2 separate regions of the Homo sapiens genome follow, and region 1 is linked to region 2. The links come from fine-mapping of genetic effects on plasma protein levels. A gene starts in region 2. The other region holds a variant in brackets. All regions are shown on one strand. Distances are from middle to middle.

Region 1 (8,528 bases), 56 kb after region 2:
AAGACGATGAGAAGCAAGCACACAGCAAACTGTTTGGCTTTTAGATGCATCCTGGCCTGGCCGGGTGGACTTGCACAGAACTGCTGGTGCCAGGTTAGTTCCCTGGGACTTTTCCAACATTTGTCTCTGTATTGAGTTTTGTCCTTATTCCTGAAATAGAGTAGCCACTGAAATCAGGAACCAGAACTTCTGGAAAATACCTTTGGAAACCACTGTGTTGCATGGTAGAAGAAAGGCAACTGCCAGTAGTTAAAATACCGGGTTGAGTGCTAGTTTTTTCACCCTTTATTTTTTCTTTTTAAGGAGAGGTCTGATTTACTTTCTTCTGTCTGTTAAAGCTCTTCACAGGTTCTTAGAAAAACAAGCCATTTAATGGTACCAGCCGTGAGGATCCAACTTCAGTTCCATGAAAGCTGCCTGGTAGTTCTGGTCACAGGGTCCTGATGGGAGACCGTGTAACTGCTGCTAGGCAGTCAGCTGGAGGGCTCTGGTGTGGCTCACGCTTGTGTTTGTTCAAGTGACCTGAATGTGCTTCCTCTTTGGGGACCTGTTTCAAATGCACATGCTGACGCCGTAATCATCCACTAAACCAAGTGAGAGTCAGGAAATTCAAATTCGTAGTGCCTGTGACTTGGCCACACTCCCTGTACACATAAAACAAGGTCTTAAATCAGAGAAACTACCATCTAGATTAACACTCAAACTGCAGATGGGGACCGGAGCTGCTCTTGGTGTGGGAACTGCAACTTTGAAGTTCCAGACTTTGATGTGATTAACATTTCAGACTTAAAGTCCTTTCTGTGTGGTAACTTTTTTTTTTTTAAACACCAAACTGAAAATAAAAATTGATTAGATTAGGGGTGTCGGAGAAGCAGATTGTAAAGGGAGGAGCCCTCTTGCAAACCACATGTAACTATGTCACATCCTTATGTGCCTCAGGAAGAGAGAGATGACAGACTAGTGACCTTTCACCATATCTCTTTTACTTATAGCTGTTCTTACAGAGACCCTGCCCTCCAACACACACACCACCTCCAAAAAGAGGACACTTTTGACTTTGCTATCTCTTATTGACCAAGTGATAATCCTGATGGAGAGATGGGGTTTACAGGCATGAGGTGTTCTTTTTTACCCAGATTTCAAGGTTCAAATACTGGAGATCATCTTACAGCCTTCTTCAAATTGTGGCTGATTAAAGTTTAATTCTTCACCTCTGTCTTGCTGGTGAAAGGAATACGAGGGCAGGGAAAGTGGAGTTTGTGGGTCATTCCTCTTTTAAAACGTTGCCATTAAAATTGTAGATAAACCGATACACAGTAGTCCTCCTTTATAGGAGGGAGATAGTTCCAGGACCCACAGTGAGTGCCTGAAACTGGATAGTATCAGACCCTGTGTATACTACGTTTTTCCCTATACCTACATACCTATGATAGTTATACATTAGGCAGAGTAAGAGATTAACAACAATAACTAATAATAAAACAGACCAATAATAACAGTATAATGTAATAAAAGATAGATGAATGTGGTTTCTCTCTCTCTCAAAATATCTTACTGTGTTGTACTGCAGGTAACTCAAAAAGGTGGAAAGTGAAAGCTCAGGGAAGGACTACTGTACATGGAATTGACATCAAGCAAACAAGAAATGTTGTGCCTGGGATGATAAAATTTCTTGGCCACTGAAATTGTTGGGCCAGCCTTCTTTTTGAAAGAAATCTCCTTAGGCATGCTTGCGAACGCACGTGTGTGTATACGTACATATGTGTAACACACACACAAGTCTCTTCTGTTTTCTTAGGTTAAAAACCTGAGGTGTCATCCTGATAATTTCATGGAGACCCTGTAACATTTTTGCCATCATACATGGCACTTTATCTTCGTAGCTGTGTCTGTGATATACTGTCTGCCTGCTGTGCTCTGTCCATTTGAGCTTTCTAGAACCCTGTAGGAGAGGTGGGGAAGCCTGGATTTTGTTGGGGAGATCCAAGGTCTCTATGGCATGACAGCTGATAAATGGAAGATGGATAACTGTAACCCTTGAGTCATTGTGTTTTCTGCTGGCCCTTTCAGTCTACTGACCTTGTTTTCAGTAGGCCTGTAAAAAGGCAGGGCAAAACCTAGCCCTCTAGTAGAGTTTTTATTTTTATTTTTATTTGTTTGTTTATTTATTTATTGAGACAGGGTCTCACTGTGTCTCCCACGCTGGAGTGCAGTGGCGTGATCTTGGCTCAACCCCCGCCTCCTGGGCTCAAACAAACCTCCCACCTCAGCCTCCTCAGTGGCTGAGACTAAAGGCATGCACCACCACACATGGCTCATTTTTTGTATTTTCAGTAGAGACGGGGTTTTGCCATGTTGCCCAGGGTAGTTTTGAACTCCTGGGCTCAAGTGATCCACTCAACTTGGCCTCCCACTGTGCTGGGATTTACAGGCGTGAGCCACTGTGCCCAGCCTAGGTTTTAGGGTTTTTACATTTTACTGTTGACAGTACTGTAGCTGTGATGGGAGGAGGGAAATAACAGGGCTCGTGAGAGAGTGCTGAGCACCGTCCTCTCTCCCAAACACAGCTTCCGTGTGTTTTAGATGTGTTCTTTCCCTATCATGCCATCCATGTTTAGGGGCACAAGAAGAGTCAGGTGAGGAGGGAATGGGCATTTAAGTCCACGTGAACCCCTCTAGCAGGGTTCCCCTCTGCATCACTGTTTCAAGGAGATGGGATAGAATTATGGCGTAACTGTTTTAATGTACGAAATCAGCAGAAGCGATGAATATTTTTATCTTCAAATTTGTATTACACACTGAGGACCTTATATATGATTCTAAATTTATTGGTCATATCCTGAAATACACACTGTGTGTACCTAGTAACCTTGTATTGGTTACAGTGGTGCTGTCTTAAGTTTGTTTATTTGTTTGTTTGTTTTAAATAATGTCTGAACCCACCATAGGGGTAGCACTCTAGCACAGTTTTGGGTAACAAATAAGATTGCATTCTGACATGGTGTCATAAATCATATCTAAAAGCCGTGAGGTCACATAGAACTTGTTTATGTAACAGGGTAGAACAAAACTCATTGTTCTGAGAATATATTGCTCACTCATTTTATCCTCAGTCACGATGAGTTTTACAGCCTATGTGCAGTATTGATGCCACTGAATAAGCATTTATTTTTGATGAAGATACAACTTTTCTCCTCACGTTCAGTTGAGAGTTTGCAACAAGTAAGACTTTGCATTCTGGAATTTATGTAGATGTATGTGTATAGATACATGTGGTTTTTAAGGCCTGGCAACCTTAATGAATACTGGTAGAAGATTTTGGCTGTCTTTTAACAGCATTACCATGTGGTTGACCATTTAAATAAGCAGCAGTTTATCTTGATGTAGTGAATGCATTTAATTGGTTATCCTGGCAAAGCAGGGTATTCGTTGGTTACAAGCATAATTTTCTGAGTTTATATTATTTTTCCTTCTAGATATTTGTGAGCTATTGTTTTTATAGCCTATATTGAAACATGCTTTTTCTTTTTAAAATGGATTGTAGTATAGAGCTTTGTTAATAAAAAAATTTAAAATAAAAATGGTAAGGCAGAATGACTTAGTTATTTTTATATTTTCCTGTAAAAACAGCCTCAGTTAAGTGAGCCACAATGAGCCATGATGTATTTCCTCCATCAGGATGGAAAATAAGCCATTTATTATTTCAGGTCTGACTCACAGTGAACCTGCTGACACTGGGATGTTTTAAAATCATAATCATAAGGAACAGGTTAGGGCAGAAACTTGGACGCTGGGCCTAGGATTACCTGCTTATTACAATGTTTTACAACTTGGATGCTTTAGGTTTTCTGGCACAATGTCCTAAACCTCACACACTAAACACCCCCTTGTTGTACAATTATTGCTTGCTGGTTTTAGATGGTGCCAAATAGACAGATGCCTCATCATAATTACCATTTTTTAAAATTTCACTGTTATAGACATATATAAATAGGTTGTTATCTCCTCTCCCTTCCCTCAG[T/A]ACAGTATGCTCATGCTTCCACAAAAAGCACCCCGGATGTCCTTAGTTAATAAAAACGGGCAGCTGAGGAGTGAGGGTGTGGCAGGTGGATGCAGCGTGTCCTCAGTGTCGCAGGGTACATAATATTAAATTACATGTGATTGCAAAGGAAAGCAGTTACGTCGAATACAGTTGTGAAAATTGTCGTAGGGTAATAGATGTGCTTCTTTATCAATACATTAAATAATATTTAGTGGCGGGTCACCATAATTTTGAGGTGGAGATGAATAAACAATATTTTGAGTTTTTGACAGCAACTGTAATGTGAAGGCATCCGATTTCTATTGGTGTCAAAGTCACAGGTACTGCCAATACTGTGATGTGTTGCCTACATTCGTAATTGGAAAAAATGCTGAATTTTAATGAGCGGCTCATAAAAATGTGTTTTTTCCTATCCAAGGTCATGAATCCCTTGAGTTCTGTCCATGGGCTCCAGGTTAAAATCCTGGGCCTTGAGGAATTTTTTTCCCCCCCACCCTGAAGAATTTCTTTAGGCGTGAGTTTGAATATATGCAAATAAAGTTTTCCTTGAAGACAGTGCTATTCTACTGGCCTTGGTTCAAAAATAGGAAGACATGTTTAACTCTTGTTTTTATAGTCAATCCTAATTATCTACAGTCCAGAATTGAAGAAATTAGCCTTCATTTTCCTGAGAAAATCACATACTCCTTTGACATCAAAAGAAGGATGCACTGAAACCTGTATTTTCTATGGTTTTGAGTAAACAGACTTACATTTACAAATACTCATGCATAATTCTATACACATTCTAGGCATATTAATACAGTGTAGACTGATATAAAAAATTACATCCTTTCCAAAGTAAGTGTATGCCTCTCCTTTGTAAAACAGAAGGAAGAATAAAGAAAGCAAACAAATTAACCTTGTCATGGCAAGCAGAAGAAAAAAGAAGCAGTAGGCTCCCAGTTTGGTATTCTACCCTCCAGATGACTTTATTGCATAATATGTTTTGTCATCCAAACGTAATTTTATTTCAGGTCTACTGAGCTTCAAAAATTACAAATGATAACGATAATTAATTAAATTTGAGTAGTTTTAATGACATTGAGCTGTGTGCTGGAATGGGAAAATGGCACAATTGAAGGACATTTACATTGAATGTCATTGTTTAAAGTTACCCTGATTTGGAGGCCCATTAAAAATACCAAAAGTCATTGTATTTTAACATTTATTTCAGCTGAAGGTTTTAAAACAGCTTTTAAAAATCTTTAGTACCTGCAGTGAAGATACACGTACCCCCTTCCCACCTATCTCTAGGATCCATCATATGAGCTGAAAATTATCTTTAATAAATTAACCATGATCATGACAAATCTTACTTTACTGCTTTGAAGGAAAAAGGAGGCATTTTGTGACGTGACACTGAAAGGATAACATTTGTTGCCACCCTCTTATATAATACCTACCTTAAGAATCAGGAAAAGCCTTGGAGATGACACTTCAATTTGTAGACAATGTTCTTTTCTGAAGAGAATCTGAAAAAAAGATAGCCTGGAGAAATCAATAAAATGTAAAATAGAAAAAGAATAAGGTGATTGCTACTTTAACAACAAGCTAATACTCTGAGGGGTTACATTAGTGACAGACAAGGAGAAATATGCATTTTTGACTTGAAGGATAACACATTGTATCAGTTAGCTTTTGCTCCATAACAAATAACCCCAAAAGTCTCAGTGGCATGCAACTGTATGTATTTATTTCTTGCTCACATGTATGAGATTCCCTGCAGCAGCCTACTCCATGTGTCTCACTTTGAGGCCTTGGCTGGAAGGTGAGCGACTAGGGTAAGTTCTTCTCATGGTAGTGTCATGTGCAAGAGGGCAAGCCTGACTGTATGAGTATGTTTCAAGTCTCTGCCAGCATCAGATTCCCTAGCATCCCATTAGCCATAGCATCTCTTGAATCAAGAAGGAGAAAAGTGTACTTTACCGACAAGAGGCCATAGAAATACAATTACCAGGGAGTGAAGAATTGGGACCAATAATTCTGTCCTACCACAAATGCTAAAAATGTTAGCAGCTGAGGGTAGCTTTTGGTTATGAGATTATATGGTGGTGTCTTATTGCCTTTGGCTTTTGTCATTTCCTCTGCCCCAAGAAACACTAGTTCAGTTTTTCATATGGATGTTGGACCGAATGTAACACACCATGAGAGACATGTTACTAACAGCTGGGTAAGGGACAAGAAAGAGGGTACGTGAATTGAGGTAAGACTTAAGAGATCTGGGTTCAAAATCTGTTTCAGCAGTGTACCAATTGGGGGAACCCCAGGCAATTCATGTAACCTGTTTCTGTCATGGGCCCCTTGTTCTGTAAAATGAAGATACTGGGCTAGCCCGTCTCCTTAGTTCTTTCTACCACTAGAATTGAGGTTTGATTTCTTATCTGTAGATAACAGGTTTCATTTATTGGCACCTCCATTCTCACCTTTGTGTTGGTGTAGGCTCAAGGCAACAGAATGACTTTAGTAGGCAAATGGGGTTAAGTAAAAACATTGAGTGTATAGAGATGTATTACCTATGTGTACAATACTAAATAGTGTGGAGTAATGACTGTCGAATGCTGTGTTTGGGGTTATAGAATCTCCCCTATAGGCTTTAAGCTCCCTGATAACTTTATTTCCCTCCCTCCCTCCCACCCATCTAGTACAGTGCCTGACTTATAGTAAAGCACTCTAGGAACAAATGGTTGAAGGAAGAAACCCCAAGTGGGAAATTAGTAGGGGAACAATTCCCTAGCCTGAAAGTGTATCCAAGAAGAATGATGTTTTTCTGGTGCTTATATTTATTGCCTAGGATGGACAGCTTTCTGCTTCAGAGGATTGGGAGTGTTCATCCAAGCAAGATTGACATAGACATTTGATGCTGTGTCCCCAGCATTTTGCTAGGCGCTCCGGGTGTAGCACGAGGAAGCATGGTTGCAACGCCCTCCGGTTTTTGTCTGGAAGACAGATGTGTAAACAGAATTGCACTGTGCCTTCTGTACCAGAGGCCCAACCAAGGCATAGAAGAGCCACGTGGGAGACATAGGGAGATCTCACTTGGAAGAAACCTGGGTCTGGTCTTGATTGAGGAGTGGGGAGAAGTTGGGCAGATGTGCGGGCTTATAGAGAGCTTTCTGGGAAGGGTGAAGTGGCACAATATTTTTTGGGGGCCTAACTACAAAGTCTGAAGGGAAAGGCAAAGTGAGACAAAGCTTCAGAGGCAGACAGGGTTAGATCTGAGAGCATTGCATGATATGACTTTGGTCTTTACCTGATAGAAAAAGGAAGTTACTGAGGAATTTAAAGCAGGGTCAGGGATGTGATGAGATAGGAATGGCAATGAGGAAGTTGGATGTGGGAGTTGCAGGGACCTGCAGGCTGCACTATGACTTGGGGAGGATGGAGGGACAGCAGAGGGGCATGAGATGGGCTGACATCTGGCAAGTAGTGTCTAGTATGGACAATCACTCTTACAGCCCTCCTCAGTCGCTTTTGGCACCCTGCCTCTCCCCCAGCCCCACCATAGAAAATAACATGCTGTGCTGTCACTTAAAACCCCCTTTTCATGGCCGGGCGCGGTGGCTTACACCTGGAATCCTGGCATTTTGGGAGGCCGAGGCGGGCGGATCACTTGAGGTCAGGAGTTTGAGGCCAGCCTGGCCAACATGGTGAAACCCCATCTCTACTAAAAATACAAAAATTAGCCAGGTGTGGTGGTGGCACGTGCCTGTAATCCCAGCTACTCAGGAGGCTGAGACAGGAGAATCACTTGAATCTAGGAGGCAGAGGTTGCAGTGAGCTAAGATTGCGCCACTGCACTCCAGCCTGGGTGACAGAGTGAGACTCCATCTCTAAAGAAAAGAAGAAAGAAAGAAAAAGAAAGAAAGAAACCAACCAACCATGTTGCTGGTCCCTGAAGTAGTCCGTTTTAGGCTATATAGCTCTGGGTGATGAGAGAGATATGGTGTAGTCTGTGTTGAAGAGTGATAGAAACTCAGTTTGGAAAACTGTCAACTTGATAGGTTTAAAACCACCTTGGTCACTAAAGTGGTGGAGGTTATTTTGAGCTTCAATTTTTACATTTGCTTTATCTTGCTAGATAACATTTGGAAAAATTGTTATTCTACAGTATTTTGGTTAAGTAGAACAAGCCTTTCAGTAAATTCCACTACATTATTGTTATAATTTTTTTTTTGTCATCCCAGATTAGTTGATATTTGCATTATTACTTGGTCGATGTACGTTTTCTAGATTATTAGGCTCATACCTACTACTTTTCAATACTTGTCAGCTGATAAGAGGTATCTCTTAGTGGTTAGTGTCAGCAGCATTACTGGTATAATTTGTGGCCTTCTTTCACACACTAGTTTTCCACACCTCCAAGCAGGTTCAGGGCTTACGTAGCTACTGATTCATACGTACTGCTGGCAACTGACTAGAGAGGTGGAAAAGGGAGTACCTTGGG
Region 2 (3,998 bases):
GTGTTCAGGGAGGCCAGATAATCTCCTCCCCGCGCCGGAGCCCCTGTTCCTCATTTCTAGCATTTTAAAAAAGGTCAAGAATACAGTGAATCCGGCTGGGGGCTGCCGGCTGGGTGACGCGCCTCTGGCTAGACCGAATGGCACAGGCTGAGCCCGGGGGTGCGGACCGGTGGGCACGGAGAAGGGTCCCTCGGCGCGGACTCGACTGCAGGAGCCGCGGCGCCGGGGGTGGGGGGCGTGTGCCGCTCGCGAGGGGGCCGGAGGACTTGACAGATCGCAGCGAAAGAAAACATTAAACCAAAACAAAACCCACCGATTCCCCACGTCGTTCAGCAAAGACATCGTGGGTGGAGCCAGGAGGGAGCGATTGAGTAGAATTCCTCGCGGCCGCCTCCGCCCGCCCACCCCGCGCCCCCGGCCCTCGGCCCCCTGCCCTGCCAGCCCGCCGGGCTCGGCCCGCAGCGGAGGTCAGGGAGCAGCGAGCGCCTCCTCCCACCCGGGCTTCCCGAGTACTCGGCTCTGCTGCTCCGTAGTAAACAAAGTGTCGCCGGCGCCTCCACGCTGGTTTGCTTCCTAGCAATCAAAACACTGAGAAGGCGAGAGAATCACAGAAACACTCGAGAATTACCAGAAAATAATAGAGATCCAAAAAAAAAAAAAGGAGGTGAGTGTGTGAAAGAGAAAAACACCCCACTACCCCCCACCAGCCCACCGCCGCCTCCCCGTGGAAAACCGGGCCCCACCCAGCCCGGCGCCCACTGGCTGCCCGGGCGGCGGTGCCGCATGCCCATTGGCCGCGCGGGCTGTCGGTCAGGGGCGGGCCGGCGCGCGCGCCGCCGCGGGCGGGGGGCGGCGGCAGATCCCGTAAGTCGGGCGGCCTGGTAGTCGCAGCAGCCGCTGCCGCAGCCGCCACATTCAACAGGCAGCAGCGCAGCGGGCGCGCCGCTGGGGAGAGCAAGCGGCCCGCGGCGTCCGTCCGTCCTTCCGTCCGCGGCCCTGTCAGCTGGAGCGCGGCGCAGGCTCTGCCCCGGCCCGGCGGCTCTGGCCGGCCGTCCAGTCCGTGCGGCGGACCCCGAGGAGCCTCGATGTGGATGGCCCCGCGAAGTTAAGTTCTGGGCTCGCGCTTCCACTCCGCCGCGCCTTCCTCCCAGTTTCCGTCCGCTCGCCGCACCGGCTTCGTTCCCCCAAATCTCGGACCGTCCCTTCGCGCCCCCTCCCCGTCCGCCCCCAGTGCTGCGTTCTCCCCCTCTTGGCTCTCCTGCGGCTGGGGGAGGGGCGGGGGTCACCATGGCCGAGGCGCCTCAGGTGGTGGAGATCGACCCGGACTTCGAGCCGCTGCCCCGGCCGCGCTCGTGCACCTGGCCGCTGCCCAGGCCGGAGTTTAGCCAGTCCAACTCGGCCACCTCCAGCCCGGCGCCGTCGGGCAGCGCGGCTGCCAACCCCGACGCCGCGGCGGGCCTGCCCTCGGCCTCGGCTGCCGCTGTCAGCGCCGACTTCATGAGCAACCTGAGCTTGCTGGAGGAGAGCGAGGACTTCCCGCAGGCGCCCGGCTCCGTGGCGGCGGCGGTGGCGGCGGCGGCCGCCGCGGCCGCCACCGGGGGGCTGTGCGGGGACTTCCAGGGCCCGGAGGCGGGCTGCCTGCACCCAGCGCCACCGCAGCCCCCGCCGCCCGGGCCGCTGTCGCAGCACCCGCCGGTGCCCCCCGCCGCCGCTGGGCCGCTCGCGGGGCAGCCGCGCAAGAGCAGCTCGTCCCGCCGCAACGCGTGGGGCAACCTGTCCTACGCCGACCTCATCACCAAGGCCATCGAGAGCTCGGCGGAGAAGCGGCTCACGCTGTCGCAGATCTACGAGTGGATGGTCAAGAGCGTGCCCTACTTCAAGGATAAGGGTGACAGCAACAGCTCGGCGGGCTGGAAGGTGAGTGGACTCGGCGCGCGGCCGGACCTTGGGGGCGCGGTGGGTCAGGCGAGGGCGCAGCTGTGCAGGTTTGCTCGGCCTGAAGGTGCGGAGCAGGAGGGCAGCGCGTTCCCAGGAGGGCGGGCGAGAAGCGGTGGTCGCGGTGGCCTCGCCCGGGTCCGGTCGGGGACGGCAGTAGGTGTGCGTGCGCGCCAGTCAGGAGTTCGCGTGGGACGCGGTAAGGGGCTCGTTGGGGAACTAAGTAAAGAAAGTGCGCCAAGAAGTGGACGTCAGAGCGAGGCCGAAAAGTTTGCCAGTGAAAGGAGAAAGGGGTTCGCTGGGAGCGGCAACCCCCGGCCCGCGCCGACTGCTTCGGCTGCCCCTTCCCTCCCGGACCTCCGCGGGGGGAGGGCGGGTTCTCTCCGGCCGCGCCGCGGAGCTGTTTCCGCCGGGCGCGGCGGGGGAGGGCGCGGCGAGGGGCCCCGGAGCCTCGCTGCCCCGGGACCGGGCTGCAGGTGGAGGGGACAGGCAGGGCGCGACCGGCCGGGGACGGTGCAGGGCCTGCCGGGCAGTTTCTGGAGGCGGTGCGCATTTTGCTTTGTTTTGGTTTTCTCCGGAGTGGCCTCGAGTGCCGGGGGCCCGGCGTCCCGAGCCCGAGGTGGTGCCTCCGACACGTGCGAAGGGGCGGCCACCGCCTGCGGAGCGCCGGCGCCTGGCCGCGCGGGGCGAGCTAAAGTTCAAGTGTGACCCTCGGCGGGGGCGGGCGCGGGCGGTGGCGGTGGCGGTGGCGGTGGCGTGGGAGGGGCCCCGGGCGCAGGAAGCCCGCGCCTTTAAAGGGCCAGCGCGTCGGGGCCGGGCGCCGTGGGGCCAGCGTTTCTCCATGCGGGGAAGCGCCCGAACTTGGTCTTGCCCCTGGTAGGAGGCTTTTAGTTAGAAACACAGAGGCTGCCCTGAGGGGCCGGGGGCTGGGATGTGTGAGTCTTTTCCTGCCTTGCCACCCTATTCTTGAGCATGGAGGACCAGGCGGGGGGGCTTTGCGACCAATGTTTTGAGGGAGTCGGAGTGGCGGTGCGCGTCGAGGGAGCGGTGCCTTGAAGGAGGATTTTTGCCATTTTTGCCTTTCAGAGCGTGGCCAGGAGAGACTTAGCGTGGGGGCAGGCACTTCCCGACTCCGAGGAGAAGGCCCGGGGGCCCTCGGCTCCGGGGAGGCTTCCCGGGGGCGGGGTCCAGTCGTGGCGCGGCCTCCCCAAGCTGACAGTTTCTCACTGTCACCGGTGGCGGAATTGCTGTAAAGGCTGTCTAGTTGAGCTAAACACCTCCCTCCCCTCCTCCGAGACGGAGTCTCGCTCTGTCGCCAGGCTGGAGTACCGTGGCGCGATCTCGGCTCACTGCAACCTCCGACTCTCTGGTTCAAGCGATTCTCCTGTCTCAGCCTCCCGAGTAGCTGGGATTACAGGCACGAGCCACCACGTCGAGCTAATTTTTGTGTTTTTAGTAGAGACCGGGTTTCACCATGTTGGCCAGGATGTTCTGGATCTCCTGACCTCGTGATCGGCCCGCCTCGGCCTCCCAAAGTGCTGGGATTACAGGCGTGAGCCACCGTTCCCGGCCGAGCTAAACACCTTTTTAAAACATACCTTTCTTCGCCTCTCATATTGGACTCCACGGCATAATAAAGATTGGTCTTTGCTGCGCAGTTGTTAACACCAAGGTTATTTTACACACAGTGTCATCCCTGTGGTTAATGCGTGTCAAAAGGGTTAAGTTACTCACACCTTATTGAAGTTCCTTTAGAAGGAATTCAAGATTCATTTTATTTTTTCCAAAGTGTGTTTTAGAGTAAAGGTATCACTTATCGCTTCATTACCAGGCATTACATGCAATTTTACCAAGTGTTTCAAAAAAGTAAAGTGCCTTCTTACCGTTAAGTTCAGCATATATTCTATTAAGTCACAAAATCGAAATTGTCTGCCAAATCTTGTTTTACTTAACATTTGAATTTAAGTACTTGACTTACTTGCTCATCTATCAATTCCACTTCAGCTGTTACAGAGTATTAGCCATTTAAAAAAAAAATCCTCCCCCCTTTTTTTGCATTCAAA

Alleles and levels. Alleles are on the strand shown, and positions count from the first base shown. The strength of an association depends on the size of the effect and on how common the allele is.
In carriers of allele T in region 1, the plasma level of the protein whose gene starts at base 859 in region 2 tends to be lower than with A alone (moderate association).

Evidence for each region. A credible set is the group of variants that fine-mapping cannot tell apart. PIP is the chance, under the fine-mapping model, that this variant and not a neighbour inherited with it causes the effect. The UK Biobank Pharma Proteomics Project read protein levels with antibody pairs (Olink). The fine-mapping took linkage between variants from a reference panel, not from the people measured, so its PIPs are less certain.
Region 1: its variant is the best candidate, but not a certain one, in a credible set for the plasma level of the FOXO1 protein (UK Biobank, PIP 0.54).

Annotation. Positions count from the first base shown.
Region 1 is chr13:40,605,715-40,614,242 of GRCh38, reverse strand. The region is part of intron 1 of FOXO1 (forkhead box O1); the gene reads left to right. Among named protein-coding and RNA genes, the nearest start is that of FOXO1, 57 kb to the left of the region's middle. RefSeq lists an enhancer at 898-947. The variant T/A (reference allele first, on the strand shown) is at 4,022.
Region 2 is chr13:40,663,502-40,667,499 of GRCh38, reverse strand. It overlaps FOXO1 (forkhead box O1), which reads left to right and starts at 859. Exons shown (of 3, transcript NM_002015.4): 1 at 859-1,917. The coding sequence starts at 1,288. RefSeq lists an enhancer at 1-20 and silencers at 671-1,200, 1,431-1,570, 1,661-1,710, 2,231-2,740, 3,041-3,120.